Regions from separate parts of the Homo sapiens genome. Here region 1 is linked to region 2. Evidence: fine-mapped expression QTL. A gene starts in region 2. The other region holds a variant in brackets. All regions are shown on one strand. Distances are from middle to middle. Region 1 overlaps RPH3A (rabphilin 3A). Region 2 holds the start of RPH3A (rabphilin 3A).

Region 1 (8,339 bases), 96 kb after region 2:
CCTATGGGGAAAGCCACCCACCCACCCCACGTCAGCCCAAACGATGGGGTTCCAGGACTGGCTCCCCACTGAGGTAGGTGTCTCTGTCCATCTCTCTCGGGCTCTAGTCCAACAAGCTTCGTACAAAAACTCTGCGGAATACCCGGAACCCCATCTGGAATGAGACCCTCGTGTATCACGGCATCACCGATGAGGACATGCAAAGGAAGACCCTCAGGTACCTGGCAGGCAGAGGGCAGAGAGGGAGGCAAAGGGGAGACTCGGGGTGGGTGGAACTGAGACTTGGGGTGAGGCCCCCAGGGCTTCACTCTAAAAAGATCTCTACATAGTTTATTTTTTTCCTTCTTGTTTACTTTTACCAAAAAATGATATATATATTTGGTAGAACTTTTGGAAAATACAGATAAGTTGAAACTGTTTACTGTTAACATCTTGGTATCTGTTCGTTCAGGGGGTGTGTGTTGGGGGATGGTGCGTGTGTGGGTGTGTATGTAAAAGTTTTTTCCTAATAAAATTGAGTGCTTATAAAAATGTTTATTACAATAGATCATCTCATTAGTACATCTGTATCACTTAAGAATACACTGATGCCATTTCACATTCTTCTACAGTGTTGAATTATTAGGCTGGTGTGAAAGTAATTGCAGTTTTTGCCATTAGAAGTAATGGATATATATATATATCCACTTTTATTTATCCAGTTTTATTTATCCAGTTTACTGTTGATGTATTTGGGTGGTTTCTAGTTTGGGGCTATTACAAATAGTGCTGCTAGGAACATTCTAGTAGCTGTTTCTAGGTGCACAGGTGCACTTATTTCCATATATATATATATGTATGGAACTTGCCTTTTTTTCTTAACAATATATCTCAGTATTACAGCCATGAAAAGACATTTAAATCTACCTAATTTTTAACTGCCTCAGAATATTCCACAGAATGGATTTATCACAGATTTTTTTAAATGTTCTTATCCTTAAATATTACAAATGAATAGAAAAGTGTAGAATATACTAAAACAAACATCCATGAACCCACCCGATACTTGATCTGTTAAAAATCTTGCTATTTTGCTGTGTTTGCGTCAGCTCTTTTTTAAGAAATAAAGCACCCCCGATGCAAGTTGAAGCTCCTTTTGTATATTCTATCTCCCACCCTGTCCTGTCCTCTTCCTTCTCTCCCAAGAGCTAGACACCATCCTGAATTCTTTGGGTATCATTCTCAAGTATGTCTTATACTTCATAATTATGTATCTATAAACAATGTACAGCATTGTTTGGCATGTTTTAAATTTTTGTGTAAATGTTTACCAGTTTATTTAGCCAATTCCCTTTGGGTGGACATTTAAATTGTTTTCAGCTTTTTTCTATTACAAACAAAGTTGCAATGAGCAACTTTATTCTTCCTTGTGTACATATGAGTGTTTCCTTAGGACAGAAACCAAAGAGAATTATTACTGGATCATGGGATATGTGATGTTTTCCAAAACAATTTTACAAGACATGCAAACTGCTTTCCCAATTGGCTGCAACATTATTCTAAGTAAATATTTTTATTGCGGCATAACATTCATTTAGCAAAATGCACATATAAATGCACAGATTGATGAATTTTCACAATAGTGAACATACTGGGCTTAAGGAATGGAACATTCCTAGACTGCAGAAGACCCCCACTGTGGCCCCTTCTTATTGAATGCTCCCCTGGGGTATTCAATATCCTAACATCTTACAGGACAAGTTAATTTTGTCTGTTTTTGTACTTTATATAAATGAAATTTTATTGTGTGGCTCTTTTGTATCTATATTCTTTCATTTAACATTTTACATGTGTATTCATCTAAGTTGTGTGTAGTTGTAGATCATTCTTGTTGCTATTTAGTATTTTATTGCAGGAATATAATGCAGTTTTATTTATCCAGTTTACTGTTGATGTATTTGGGTGGTTTCTAGTTTGGGGCTATTACAAATAGTGCTGCTAGGAACATTCTAGTAGCTGTTTCTAGGTGCACAGGTGCACTTATTTCTGTTGCATATATACCTAGAAGTGTAATGATTGAGCCATAAGATATGGGTACGTCCAGCTTTAATAGAAACTGCCAGTTTTCCATAGTGGCTGTGCCAGTGTGCACTCCTATCAGCCATGCATGGGAGTTCCAGTTGCTTCACAGCCTCATCAACACTTTTTCATTTTGGCCATTCTGGTAGGTGTGCACTGGTGTTGCGTTGTGGTTCCAAATTTCCCTGATGACTAAGTACAACACTTTCTCTAATGTACACTATTACATTTTGTGGTTATTTCATAATTTTCTTAAGCAGTTCCTCCATTGTACAGTATTTGTTATTTCTGCTTTTTTCATAGTTATAAACAATATTGTGACAAACATCTTTGTAGTTAAATATATTTCTAATTTTTTGAGGGTACATAGTAGGTGTATATATTAATATTCATGAGGTATATAGGATAATTTGATACAGGTATACAGTGTGTAATAATCGCATCATGAGTTTTTTAAATGGGTTAAAATAAATGTCTTTTTTAATCACCTCAAGCATTTATCCCTGTGTTATAAACAATCAAATTATACTCTTTTCACTATTTTTAAATGTACAATTAAATTATTATGGACTATAGTCACCCTGTTGTGCTATCAAATATTAGATCTCATTTATTCCTTCTAACTATTTTTTGGACCCATTGTAGTTAAATATTTTTGTACTTGCCTTATGATATATTTGAGGTAAATTCCTATAAGTGGTGCTACAGGGTCAAAAACAGTGATTATTCTCTTATGTCTTTGGAGATGCGTTGCCCTGAAGAAGGATGATATTGTTCACACCCCAACCAGCTCAGTAGAGACAAGTTTTTTCTCCAGTGTTAGACAGTGCAGGACTCAGCTATGAGGGTGTTTGGGCCCTCCAGGACTTTGAACATTTGTTCAACTAATGTTGGTGGCCAAGGAGTGCGGTACTTTTACAGTCCCTTCCTGTCCCCCAAGAATGCCTCCCATGCCTTGCAGGACAATAAGCCCTTTCCTCTCTTAGTGTTTGTCAGGATGAATTATCATGCCGTGACTGGTCCTTTTGGTCTCCTATGGCAGCAGTTCCCAATCTTTCTGGCACCAGGGAACAGTTTTGTGGAAGACAGTTTTTCCATGAACTGGGGTAGGGAGAAGGATGGTTACAGGATGAAACTGTTCCACCTTGGATCATCAGGCATTAGATTTTCATAAGGAGCGTGCAAACTAGATCCCTCACATGTGCAGTTCACAATAGGGTTTATGCTTCTGTAAGAATCTAATGCTGCCACTGATCTGACAGGAGGCGGAGCTGAAGTGGTAATGCTTGCTCACCTGCTGCTCACCTCCTCCTGTGCAGCCAGGTTCCTAACAGGCCACAGACTGGTACTGGTCCATGGCCTGAGGGTTGGAGACTCTTGTCCTAAGGGACATTTCTTATGACCTGCCTTTTTTGTGCCACTGTTACTCAATGCTGTGTAAGGTAGATAACAAAAGGCAATATATTACTATAGGATTCAGGGAGACCTGGATTCAAACCCTGGTTCTACCTCTTATTAGGGAAAAATTATTTAATCTTTCTGGGCCCCAGTATCTTCTCTAAATGGTAAATGCAGTTGTTTTGAAATAGGAAAAATTAAATGAGAAAAGTTCCTAGCCTGACTTTGCAAAAGAGGATGCTCAAATGGCCATAAAGTATATGAGAAGGGGCTCAACTGTTTTAATCATCAG[G/A]GAAATGTAAATTAAAACTAGTGACATACTATGACCCATCCAGAAAGGCTAAAATTAGAGACTGACATAATTGAAGTCAAAGAGAATAAAGAGTGACCAGAACCTTTATAAACTGCTGGTAGGGACATAATTGGTGGAACTGCCTTGGAAAACTGTTTTGAAGTTTCTACTGAAGCTAAACTTATGCCTAGTCCATGGCCAGCAACCCTACTCCTAGGAAAATACTCAATAGAAATATGTACATGTATATCCGAAAGACATGAACATAAATATTCCATAGCAGCGTTATTCATAATAACTCAAAACTAGAAACAACCTGTATCAACAGCAGAATTATTATGGTACATTTACACAGTGGAATACTATGCAGCAATAAAAAGGATAAGTTATACTGTGCATGGATGCATCTCACAGACATAATCTTGAGCAAGAGAAGCCAACATAAAAGAGTCTATATTATATGATTCCATTTATATGAAGGTCAAAAACCAGACAAATGACTTCATGTGGCCAGAGGCAAAAGAGTGGCTATCTTTGAGACAGGCAGTGACTAGAAAGGATCCTGAGGATCTTTCAGTCTCTGGAATGTTTTATATCTTGACCTGGGTGGGAATTACATGGGTATATACAAATGCAAGGGTTCATCAAGCTATAAACTAAATTTATGTGCTTTACTGCATGTCAGTTATACTGCAATAAAGAAGAAGTTAAAGGTACTTGGTCCAGTGATAAATAAACAGGAAATCATATTATTTCCACATACATTACACATTCCTTACCAGTATCAGCTGCAACTCTTGGCACACAGTGGTGTCTTAATATTTGTTCCTGTTTCTCTCTCTACCCCCTTGTGTTGGTGGCAGGATCTCCGTCTGTGATGAGGACAAATTTGGCCACAATGAATTTATTGGTGAGACCAGATTCTCCCTCAAGAAACTGAAGCCCAACCAGAGGAAGAATTTCAACATCTGCCTGGAGCGAGTGATTCCTGTGAGTGACTTTACCCTGAGGATCTGATGGGAGGAGGGGAGATTGGGGGAGCTGCCTTCCTCTGGGTCTGAATTGGGGGAAATAGATCCACGGGGTATTGGGTAGCAGAGGCACTGCAGCAGGTCTGCAGAGGAGAGTCAAGATTCCAGCTCACAACCTCAGGCTGCATTCTCTCTCTGCCTTTCACAAACCCTGTGTCAGCATCACTTCGAACATGAGTTCTTCTTGGCCAAACTGGATGGACAGCATGGCAGGGGCAGCATGGGCTTCCTGGGTTCAGAGCCAGCTCTGCCACTTGCTGCTCCATGGCCTTGGCCAAGGGGCTGAACCACTCCGAGCCTCGGTGTTCTTGTCTGTAATGTGGGTGTTATAACAGTACCTGCCTCTTGGGAGGGTTGTGTTTTAAAAAATAACATAATCAAAATAGAACTTAATGCATAGTAAGCACTCATAAATTAACAGTTGTTAGTGTAGGAAATATTGCTGCCTTACCCACCTGTCAGTCATGAAGTCAGAAAGCACCATGTAGATAAACAGCAGACAGCATAGCCTAGAGTTTAAGAGTATGGGCTCTGCAGCCAGACTCTCGGGTGTGAATCCTGGCTCTGCCACTTAGGGTATAACCTGAGGCAAATTATTTAATTTCTCTGGGCCTCAGATGTCTCATCTGTAAAATGGGATACTGTAGTACTAACCTCATAGGATCTTTTAAGGATTGAATGTGATAATACATATGAAGTATTAGAACTGTCATTGTTGTTGTCAGATGTGATTCTTGCTCTTTGAGAAAATAGCAAGGATCAAAGTGAGGTTCTGCAATGGGGTTGCACCTCAGAATTAACCGGGGGATTCTAAAACCAGAGCTTTACAAGCTAAGATTTGTGGGGGTCTCCCCTGGAGATTCTGTTTTAGTGGGGTAGGGTAGGACTCAACAATCTATATTTTTAGAGATAATTCAGGCTGCCTTGCCTTACGTATGGGCCAACTTGGGCCCAGAAAGGGTAGCAAGTCTCCAAGGTCTCTGGGCACTGGCCAGAGTCCAGCTCTCCTACAACACCAGCACCCCTGGTCTCTCTGGGCAGCCTGCCTGCTCTCCACAGGGAAGCTATGGGGTGCAGGAGCATCTTCCCACCAGATGGCCAGCCTGAGGATGGAATGTCTGCATGCCATGCCATAGTTTTATAGTTCAGGCAAAGGAACAAGACCAAACAAGGAAAATTTCAAGGAAGGATTTCCACTGAATTCCAGGCTCAGAATAAATCCTTAAAGACATCCCTAGGAATGAGGCCCTTCTTCTGGGCTTTTGCCTGGTGACAGCTGGGTCTTCAGGCTTCTCTTCCTTCTCCAACTCCGTGAGTCCAGTTGGCCAGGACAATGGCCAGGCCCTTGCCTGTGTCATCAGCCTTTGGGTCTTCCCATCTTGCTATGGTGAATGCAGCCAGCCCCAGAGACATGGAGGTGCAGGACACCCAGAGGGCTGCAGCAGCCGCAGAACACTACTGATCATCTTCTTTTGCTCTTTGCCATTAAACCTTAACCCTTGCACCACGAACTTCCCCCATTATGTCCCACTGAGGGCCCCTCCCCTCTGGACCTCAGGTTTCCTCCTCTCCAAAGTGGGGAGGTTGGATTTAACCAATGGTTTTCTAACTCTGTTTCCCAGAGCCTAGAGTTCAGCAAAAGGGCCCCAGGGGCCATGAAGGCAAAAGCACCTGGTGGGTCAGACCCCAAGACCCCTGAGCCACTTCAACCAGAGAAAATGAAATCTTGTCTGTTTGTGTGTGGAATGCTCTGACACTTATTGGCTGTGTGACCTTGGGTAAGGGGCTTAACTACTCGGACCCTCAGCATCCTCATTTGTAAAATTGGAATTGTAACAGAACCTATATCATAGGTTGTTACACATTCACATAGCTTGCCATATGGCTAAGTTTTATAAATTTTAGCTAAAAGGGAGAATGCAGGAGAGCCACAGTAGCTTAAGAACCCACTTTCATGGCTCTGGATGGTAATGGAAGTATGAGGGGTTTCTGGTCCTTCTTGCGCAGGAAGATGAGCTCCATAGACAATGTTATCTTTTATTTGTTTTCTTCTTTTAAGATGAAACGTGCTGGGACCACCGGGTCAGCCCGAGGCATGGCCCTTTATGAGGAAGAGGTGAGCACTGAGCAGGAATTGAAGCCACAGTCAGGGTCTGTACTGGGCTAGGCTAGCATCTTCCTCTTCTCTCCCTCCCTGGCCCCTTCCTCATCCATTCTCTTCCAACCACCCCCCTGTTGATTTGCCTTGAGAACAACCCTTTGCCCACAAGTGATGTCCTCTCCACACCTAAGCCTCTGAGGAGGGGGAAGCCCCTTTCTCTCATACCCAGGATGCCCACCAGGTTTTTGGCCTTGTTGTCAGAAGCTTTGTTGACAATTCTACTGACTAGGGCAATGGCACACTCCTTTCTTGGAGTAGATGCATTCTTTGAGCTGTGTGCATGGCAGAAACTGAACTAAGCCTTCATGCTGTCTGCCTGGGTCCCTCATATGACCCCAAGGACTGCCCTTTAAGAATACTGGTTGTGTTAAGGGAGTCTGAGATCAGAGGCAAGAATCTGTCTGGGGCCAGGGTCAAGGCTCAGTCCTGGGTTAGAGCCAAAGCCAATCAGTGACCCGGAGCAAGTTTAGTCTGTGCTCACAGTCAGAGTCTGTTTATGTCTAAGTCAAAGGGAAGCCATTGGTCCCCATGTGCCTGAGACTGGTCCTCAACTTTCACCTTTGGCTCCTCTTTGGAGGCTAAGCCATCTGCTGTCCCTGGTACTGGCTCCCTAGAGCTGGCCAAGCTTCGCCTGCCCTTCATAGGTTCTTCCCTAATGCTCGCCATTCACATTTCCTGGCCCCCTCCCCTCCAAGGCCCACACTGCCTTTTCCCCCAATGCAGCAGGTGGAGCGTGTTGGTGACATCGAGGAGCGTGGCAAGATCCTGGTCTCCCTCATGTACAGCACACAGCAGGGAGGCCTCATTGTGGGCATCATACGCTGCGTGCACCTGGCTGCCATGGACGCTAATGGCTACTCAGACCCATTCGTCAAGCTGTAAGTCAATGCCTTGGGGCTACAGGTGGGCCCTGAAGGAGTCCTGGAGCCTTGGAAAAGGAGAACCAGACAGTTTCACCAAGATCGTTGTACACTGAGACCCAGAGAGGGCAAGGAACCTGCCCAAGGTCACAGTGAAACAAATGCCTACAACTGGCAAGAATGTGGGTCTGGAGTCTCAGGCAGTCAAACTGGTGTGTCACTTGCCCACAGGCAAAGCTCTGTGGCTCTGTCCTCTTGAGGGCCTGCTGATGGCTCTGCAACTAAGCTAATTAGTTATAGTAGCCCCATTTGTACTCCCAGGAGTTGGCCGCACACCCCTCGGACCGCTCAGACCTCCACCACCAAAGAGGCCATCTGGCATTTTCCAGATTCATTCTGGAAATGCTCAGAAAAAAAACATGCCTTCAGTCTGGGGTCTGTTCCAGCAATCTCATCATGGAGAATAAAAGGGACTCTGTTATCTGTGTTAGTCCAGATCCTCTGAGAAGAAGATGCCAAAATAGGATTAAGCAGACAAG
Region 2 (8,339 bases):
TCTCTCTCCCCCTATACTTCCATCCACACCTTTCCTCTCTGACTCTGGCCCTCCAGCCTCCCTCCTATAAGGACCCTTGTGATTACATTGGATTCACCCAAATAGCCCAGGATAATCTCCCCACCTCAAGATCCTCAACTTCATCACACTTGCAAAGTCCCACTTGCCACTTAAGGTAATCTATTAACCCCTTTTGGGGATGAAAATGTGGACATCTTTTGGGGCCATTATTTTGCCTACCACACTTGCTAAGTGAAATGGGCTATCTCAGTGCCCATTTCCTTGGGAGACAGAAAAGCACAGAGGACCTTGAGATAAACTGTTCAGATTCACACCCCATTCTCCCCCTCTTCCTGGCTGTGTTATCTTGGGCAAGTCACTTGAGCTCTCCATGTCTGATTTCCTCATCTTGAAAATGGGTAAATAGCACAACACAACCTCCTTTCACTGTTGTCAGTCATGAATAGTGCTGGGGAGATAAAGCATGGCACCTGGTAAATAGTAAGCACCTGCCCCCTGCAAAAGGAGAGATGATTAGGAATTAGGAATGCCAGATAGCATAATGATCATAAATTCACAGGGTCTTGGTTCAAATTCCAGTCTCACCACTTATGAACTCAATGGCCTCAGGCTAGTTGCTTTAGGAGTCTCAGTTTCATAGAACAGAAATGAAACCATTATCATCCTGAAATGGGATTGTTGGGAGGATGAGATGATGCCGCTGCACATATACAAATTGTGCAGGAGGTAGTGGGTAGCATTTGTTGCTGTAGCTATTACTACCTTCATCATTTCCCATCCTCTTTGGGGTGATGGAAAGTCTTACTGGGCTGCCTCTGCTCCATAAAACAAGGGTAGAGCAAGGCAGCTTGCTGAATTGCGGCCTGAGGAATCTTCGCAATGTTCTATCATTGAATGAAGCCTCGAGAGAGTCAGACCCTGGCCGGGCTCAGCCTTGAGAAGTCTGGGTTTTGAGGTGTCTCCCTGCTGCAGTGCCACAGGCTGGTGGAGTTTACAGCAGCAGCTGGTTCTTTGAACAAAGGGTTCTCCAGAAGCACCCGGGACAGAAGAGGGGTTTGGCAGTGGTGACCAGGGAGGTGGGCAGGATGGGGCAAGGTCCCCTGACAAGACAAGGCTAGTTCCTAGATGGCATGGTGACCAGAGAGGGTGGAGAGCTCAGGTTTCAACCATATTATTATTTTTTAATTTTGGTGCAAAATCCTTGTTTCAATGAAGGCTTGGGCAGATGCCCAGTATGCAAAACAGTTAAAAGCACCACTAACTGTTCTAGTTGAAACCAGAGTGGAGGGTCAGTTGAGGCCTCTTTTCATTTCCACAGGGGCCTCTAGGGGGCCTGGTTTAGGAAAAACTGACAGGGTCATGAAAACACAGGCTTTGGAGTCAGACAGACCTGAGATTTGCATCCCTGCCTCTGCTGCTCCCTGGTTGTGTGAGTTTGGGGGCTTCACATCATCTGTCTGCTTCTTGTCTGCAAATGGGGCAGTAATAGCACCCACTTCAGGTAGCTGTGAAGTGTGGGGATAATCACTGTAAAGTGCTTAGTACAATGCGTGACACATGGCAAGTGTCTAGGTATGCAGCAGGTGGTAGCTATTGTCATTCCCTAAGGGAGAGCTGAATTCATGAGAGGCCCTCCCAGAATACATGCCTAATGGCTGGGGAAGCTGTGAGAAATTCTTTGGGATTGGAAGCCAAGAGGCCTGGGAACTACTTGGGTTCTGATTCCACCACCAGCATCCTAAATGACTTTCATTTCTCCCTGGGCTTCTTGAATCACTCTTCAAATGTTTATTGAGGCAGCCAGGTGTGGTGGCTCACACCTGTAATCCCAGCACTTTGGGAGGTCGACGTGGGCAGGTCGCTTGAGGTCAGGAGTTCGAGACCAGCCTGACCAACATGGCGAAACCCCGTCTCTACTAAAAATACAAAAATTAGCCAGGCGTGGGGCGCATACCTGTAGTCCCAGCTATTTGCATGGTTGAGGCATGAGAACGTCTTGAATCCAGGAGGTGGAGGTTGCGGTTAGGCGAGATCTCACCACTGCACTCCAGCCTGTGTGACAGAGCAAGACTCTGTCTCAAATAAAACAAACGATATTGTTTATTGAGGGTTTCCTATGTGCCTGGGACTGCCCTAGGCAATAGACCACAGGTCCTGGCATCTGAAAGGCTTGCATTCTATACTCAACTCTGCTACTTCCTAGCTCTTTGATTATGGACAAGTCAATTCTCGTCTCTGGTCCCGAGTTTCTCCATCTGTAAATTGAGGACACTGAATTTATGTCACAGGATCATCCCAGAAAATATTCGATGAAAATTTTCCCCTCAAACTTGTAGAATGCATTTGAAATGAACTCTGAGAGACATCCTGGAGCATGTTCTTTGGAATCATACGACACTGAGTTTGAATGCTGTGTCTGTAACTTACTGTGAAGCCTTGAGCAAGGAATTTTATTTCTTGAGTCTAAGTTTTCTCATTTGCAAGATGGGAATAATACTAGTGTCCTGAAAGGGTCATGGTGAGGACTTCAGAAGATGATACATGTAAAGTTCCTAGCAGAAGAGCTGGCACATAGTAGGTTTTCAATAGCAGCCATCATTGCCACCACCACCACCACCACCATAATCATCACCATCAACATCATCAGCATAATCATTGTCAATCAACACCATCACTATAATCATCACTATGATTACCATCATGATGACAATTACTACCACCACCACCACCACCACCACTGAGGCAGGTGGTTCATTTGAGGCGAGGAGTTCAAGACCAGCTGGGGCAATATAGTGAGACCCATCTCTGCAAAAAAAAAAAAAAAAAAAAAATTAGCAGGGTATATTCGTGTGCACCTTGAGTCCTAGCTACTGGACAGGCTGGGGTGGGAGGATCACTTAAGCCCAGGAGTTCAAGGTTTCAGTGAGCTATGATTGCACCACTGCGCTCCAGCTTGGGTGACAGAGTGAGACACTGTCTTTTTCTTTTTTTTTTTGAGATGGAGTTTCACTCTCGTTGCCCAGGTTGGAGTGTAATGGTGCAACCTCGGCTCACTGCAGCCTCTGCCTTCCAGGTTCATGTGATTCTCCTGCCTCCACCTCCCGAGTAGCTGGGATTACAGGTGCACACCACCATGCCCAGCTATTTTTTTGTATTTTTAGTAGAGATGGGGTTTCACCATGTTGGCCAGGCTGATCTCGAACTCCTGACCTTAGGTAATCCACCTGCCTCGGCCTCCCAAAGTGCTGGGATTACAGGCATGAGCCACCGCGCCTGGCAGAGACACTGTCTTTAAAAAATTGTTTTTTAAATGAGCTCTAAATGTTCTCATTTTAACTCCTGGGTCTCATGGGGAGAAGTAAGTGACAAATGTAGTAGTTAACCCTGGGCCATCTGGATGGGAAGCTTTAGATATGAGTCTCCAATAGAGAGAGTTCTCCTTCACTTTGCAGAGAAGTTCTAAGCAGATCTTGGTCTGTTTGAGATTTCCTGGCCTTTTTCCAATTTGAGCCCTTTCCCAAAGTTAGGAGGAATAGGACTCTTGAGATATGGAGCACTGGGAGCCATGGGAATCCATTCATCTTTATATATTTCCCCTTTTGATACTTTTATTTCATTGTCCATATAGTGAATTCACTTCAGAAAGCCAGTCTGGATCTTTCGGGGAAGGCTCTTTGGCCAAGGCTCAATGGTCTGATTTAGACCTAAAATTTCCCTTCATTCTACTCAAACCACCTGCTGAAGGGTGAGGTTGGCACATGCCATCCTAGCTGGGCTGTCAATTCCTTTATCACTCTGTCCAAACATTTGTGTTTTAGGACAGGTTATGGACCATGAAATCATGGCAGTTCACAGCTTGGGTATTCTTATTGTTGCATTTTAACCTCTTGCTTCCTATCTTTAGGAAAAATAAGGTCATTATGTTATCATTTTCACAGATGGGACTTGGAAACATTAAATGACTTTTCCAGAGTTGTAAGGGGGCTGGATCTGACTTCCAGAAAACCATCAAGTGCTTATTCAACTAAGCCACCCTGCCCCTTAGAAATTTCCATTTCTTAAGCCTCAGCTTTTCTGCTCTGAATTCTGAGAAACTCCAGGTACAGGTCAAAAATCTGCAGCAATGGGGGTGAGGACAGGTCATCTGGGCGAAACTTTGAGGGGCAAAACCACTTAGGGAGCCCCCCACACCGGTGCCAAGCTCTTGTCTGAGCAGAGAGGAGCAATGCAGGACTGGGGGCGTGTGGGAGACAGGGGCTGTGAAGTTATAGTTCCTTTGCTCTGAGAGTGAGCGACAGTATTAGAAAAAGTGTGTGGTAGGTAAGCTGTCACTGACTAGACTGTGTGATGTCGAGAAGTCCCGTCCCCCACCCCTCCGGACTCCCCCCTTCTCTGCTTTAACCATCCAATTACTTAACTTCTCTGCCTAGGGGTTCGCTTCCCACCCATCCCCTCCTCCAAGGCATCTTAGCGCTGTCCGTGGTGCTGACCGCCAATCCCCTGGTTGCCGTTTCGACCAGCTGGGATCTCTGGTGCGCCCAACCTCCCCTCCCGGCCTCCCACCTTTCTTTCTCCAGGCACCGCACACATAAATCACGGGTGGGAGGCAGGCTTGGTTCCCGCTTGGTTCCCCCTGCACTGGGAAGCTGCCGCCCCGCTTCCCTTGCTCACACAGGGCTTTGCAGTAGTGGTGGCAGCCGCGGCAGAAACTGGCTCTGGGGAAGCAATTGATTCGTCTACTGCCAGCAGCCCGGAGTTGCCTACGCGGACTGGAAAGGAAGGGAGAAGGGAGAGAGAGAGAGAGAGAGAGAGAGAGAGAGAGAGAGACTCACAGAGCTAAAACCTTCATCCATGTGGAGGACAGTCTGAGGGAGCCACTGTCCCTTGTCCACTGACTCACTGGCTGGTCCGAGTTTTCTCCGCTTCTGGCAGTGGTATTTCTTTTTGTCTTGGTCCTGCATGATTTAGGGGTAGTTGATGTGTCTGTGTGTCTACGTGTGTGCACTGGTGCTTTGATTTTATTTTGGGAAGAGTAGGAGAGTCAAATGAACAATTTTCTTTCAGGCACCTCCGCTGAGCTTTTAAACCAAGTCATTGGGACTTAGCGTCTTTCTACCCGGCAGGGAAGGGAGGAGTTGGCAAGAATTTGGCTCACCCATTCCCCCTGCAAGCCTCCAGCGTCGCGGTAAGTGATATTCTCCCGGGTTGTGCAGATGGGCTAGGGGTGTTGGAATCCCAATTGTGATGTGTGTTCATGAGCTGGTGGGGTAAAGGGTAGTTGGGAGGAGAAGGGTATCGAGGAACGACTATGCTTATTTGCCTACATCCTGCAGTGTTTTATCACCTAAGCGGCATCCCAAAGCCAAATGAGATTTTGGCTTAGTGCCCAGGGAGGGGGTAAAATGTGCTCATGTTGTAGGCAATGCGATCAAGATTGTGGCTTCTGCCCAATTTGCCCTCTCCTTTGCAGCAGAAGCTGGTGAAAGTAGCCGGCAGTTCTCTGAGAGAGTTAACCCTTCGTGGGGCTGGCTAGTCTAGCATGGAGGGACTCTGGGTACTCTGACTTAGCAAGTGAGTGCTTATCCCTGGAGGGGAGGGGGTCACCTGAGACTGGAAGGGTAACTTTTGCCTGGGCACACTGGGTAAGATTTGCACAGGACAGAGCTTAGATTGTACCCTCTTCTAGGAACAGCTGAGTAATTTAATTGTGGTGATTTTTGCGAGGTTGGCTGTTCACGCTTTCCTGAGATGGAAGACCTGGGAGCCAGGAAAGGGCCACACTATGCCTGGGATGAGTGGTCAGGCTGGCCAGAAGGGAGCAGCCACTGCCTGCAGAGGAGATGATGTTTTATTTTCACAGGTGGCGTAACCTGTAAGTGATTGTATGGGGGAGCGTCCTGGCACTAGCTTGGGAGATTCTATCCTTGAGTTCATCTCAGAAGGAAGGAGGGGAACAAAGCTTGTTCAAATTCTGGGGAAAGATTCCAGGCTTCAGCTTCAGTTTTGTTCCAGGGTAGACCGTCCCCCTGCACTAGTTTCTTTTTCCAAGATCCTGATGGGGAAAGGCTGCACCAACCTGTTAGTGAGTGGGAAGTGGAAGTACCTTGAAATTGAATCCAAAAGCTCACATTTAATTTTGAAATGCTTTTGATGCTAATCTGCTACCCATCAAAAGGGGATTTCACTTTGCTTTCTGCTTTGATTACATCTACTTTTCTGGAAATGAATGCCCTTGTTTTTAGCATTTTTGCTATTATCTCAGGGGCCACCTCAGTGTTCTGCACCCCCAAGGATTTCCTTTTTAGATTCTTGCTCTTGGAGGTGGGAGGAATAAAACAACAGTCAGAGATTGGCAAGCCTGAAATATAAGCAGGGTTCACTCATTCTTTTTTTCTCTAGCCCCATAGCTAAGAAGAGATGCTGAAATCCCACAGCATGTGCCTGCTCAGGCAGGACATATGAGGCAGAAGAGGAGGGTTGTCTGGTGGTTAGTGTCAAAGATTTGGTTCTCAAAATCCCTAACTTCTCTTCCTAGCTTCTCTTGCTGGGTGACCTTGAGGAGGAAGTTGCCTTAGATTCCTCACTGGGAAGACTTGAGTGTGAATAATGAATGTGTGGAAATTTTGTTCAAAAAAAGAACCACATATCTGGCTATGGGTGATATTTAAAGTATTGAAATTTGGTACTAATCGATCAGAATGGCTAGGGTCCTGGAATAGGGCATCTTAGGGGGCCCCTGCTGTACTGAGTGTTAATCTTTTAATTGCTGGATTATGGAGAGGTTTGGGGGGATCTTAGGGGGCTATCAAGAGAGCCACGAGGCCTCAGGGCAGCATCCCCATTTAATTTTAATATTTATATTTTATTTTAATATTTTTAACAACTGGTTTAGCCATGCAGTACAGGCCAGCCCAGCTGGGATAGCTAATACTTGGGTGTCCAGATGTGGACACTTCCCAAATATCTCTCCACTGGGTCACTTCCTTAGGGATGGCCAAGATCCAAGAGGCCGCCCTCCCTCCTCCCCCATCACATTTGAAGTGGTGCATTGTGGTGCACCAGGGAAAGGGAAAGAGAAGCTTCTGGAAAGAGCCTTGGACTTGGGTCAGGAGACCTGGGTTCCAGTCCCAGCTGTCTCCCCTTTCTGGGCCTCAGCTTCCCCATCTATGCAATGGGGCAGTCTGTCTGGGTGGCCCTAAGTCCCCTTCAAGTTCTGGGGTTCTCTGACTATGAGATAGGTATGTGTGTGAGTGTGAGTGACTGCACATGCCCACATTTCTAGGAAGGGTTAGCACTGTGCTTGAGAATTTATCCTGTGTCGGGGAGAGGCCCTGTTTGGGGTGATTGGGGATAGGGGAGTCTCTTGTGAGAACTTTGCTAGGTTTCTAGAATCCTGAGCTCAGCTGGAAAGGGGTCTGCTTTATTTATGGCCTCAGATGCACAGAGATGTAGATTTTGCAGCACTTGAAGGCTCCAAAGAGACTCTTCTCAGGAGTAGCAGCAAGGACTCCTTGGAGAGGCTCTGCTCTGAAAAGATGCATATACACACAAACACACAACATCAGGGGGTTAGTGGATCCTCAATAATGCCCATGTGAGCACCCCCCCAAGTTCAGGACCTCTGATTTAGTCTAACCCTTTCCAGGGGGGCCCAGAGAGGAAAAACAATTTGCCCAAGACCACACAGTAAGTTATGGCAGCAACATATAAACCCACCATTATGAAGACCAAGGCATCATCCCCTCACTCCTGGCTCCAGCAGCCCCTACTCCCCCAGTCCAGCCTGAGGTACAGAGGAAGGATGTTCAGCAGTGTCTCTCCAGCCCGTGCTGGTAATCAGGAAGCTTAGCCATGGAGACAAATGTGGACATTTCCTTTCTTGTTGGCAGGAGAGAGGCAGCAGACAGAGATTCTGTGATTCCACAGGGGTAGCCTGGAAAGTCAGTGCCCCCAGCCTACTCTGCCTTTCTCCTTCTTATTGCTCCGTACACAGACTGGCTGCTTTGTCTGAAGATGTGCATTTGGTTGGGGTGGCTGCTCTTGGGCTTTCTTTGTAGGCTGTGACATTATGCTTTAACTCTTTCCCTCTCTGTGAATGGGTCCTACAGAGTTTATGGCTTTCCAATAAAAACCACCATGACACATGGACCTGTCTTCTGCCCTTCACCCTCATTCAGTGGGGAGCTGATTGTAATTGCAGATAAGCCAGGAATTGATGTGAAGCCAATGAGAAGAAAACAGTGTGGTTTATTTCTGTTAAGAGCTGTGGCCATAATCTGGGATAAAAATAATTCTGGGACCCAGTCATGGTGGGCTGA

Evidence for each region.
Region 1: its variant is fine-mapped to the expression of RPH3A in blood mononuclear cells (TOPMed, PIP above 0.99). The same link has a PIP of 0.9 or more in monocytes.

The regions. Positions count from the first base shown.
Region 1 is chr12:112,883,186-112,891,524 of GRCh38, forward strand. RPH3A (rabphilin 3A) reads left to right here. Exons shown (of 22, transcript NM_001143854.2): 16 at 108-217; 17 at 4,612-4,738; 18 at 6,839-6,895; 19 at 7,664-7,818. Among named protein-coding and RNA genes, the nearest start is that of OAS1, 20 kb to the right of the region's middle. The variant G/A (reference allele first, on the strand shown) is at 3,749.
Region 2 is chr12:112,787,058-112,795,396 of GRCh38, forward strand. It overlaps RPH3A (rabphilin 3A), which reads left to right and starts at 4,691. Exons shown (of 22, transcript NM_001143854.2): 1 at 4,691-4,955; 2 at 5,086-5,206. RefSeq lists an enhancer at 4,783-5,324.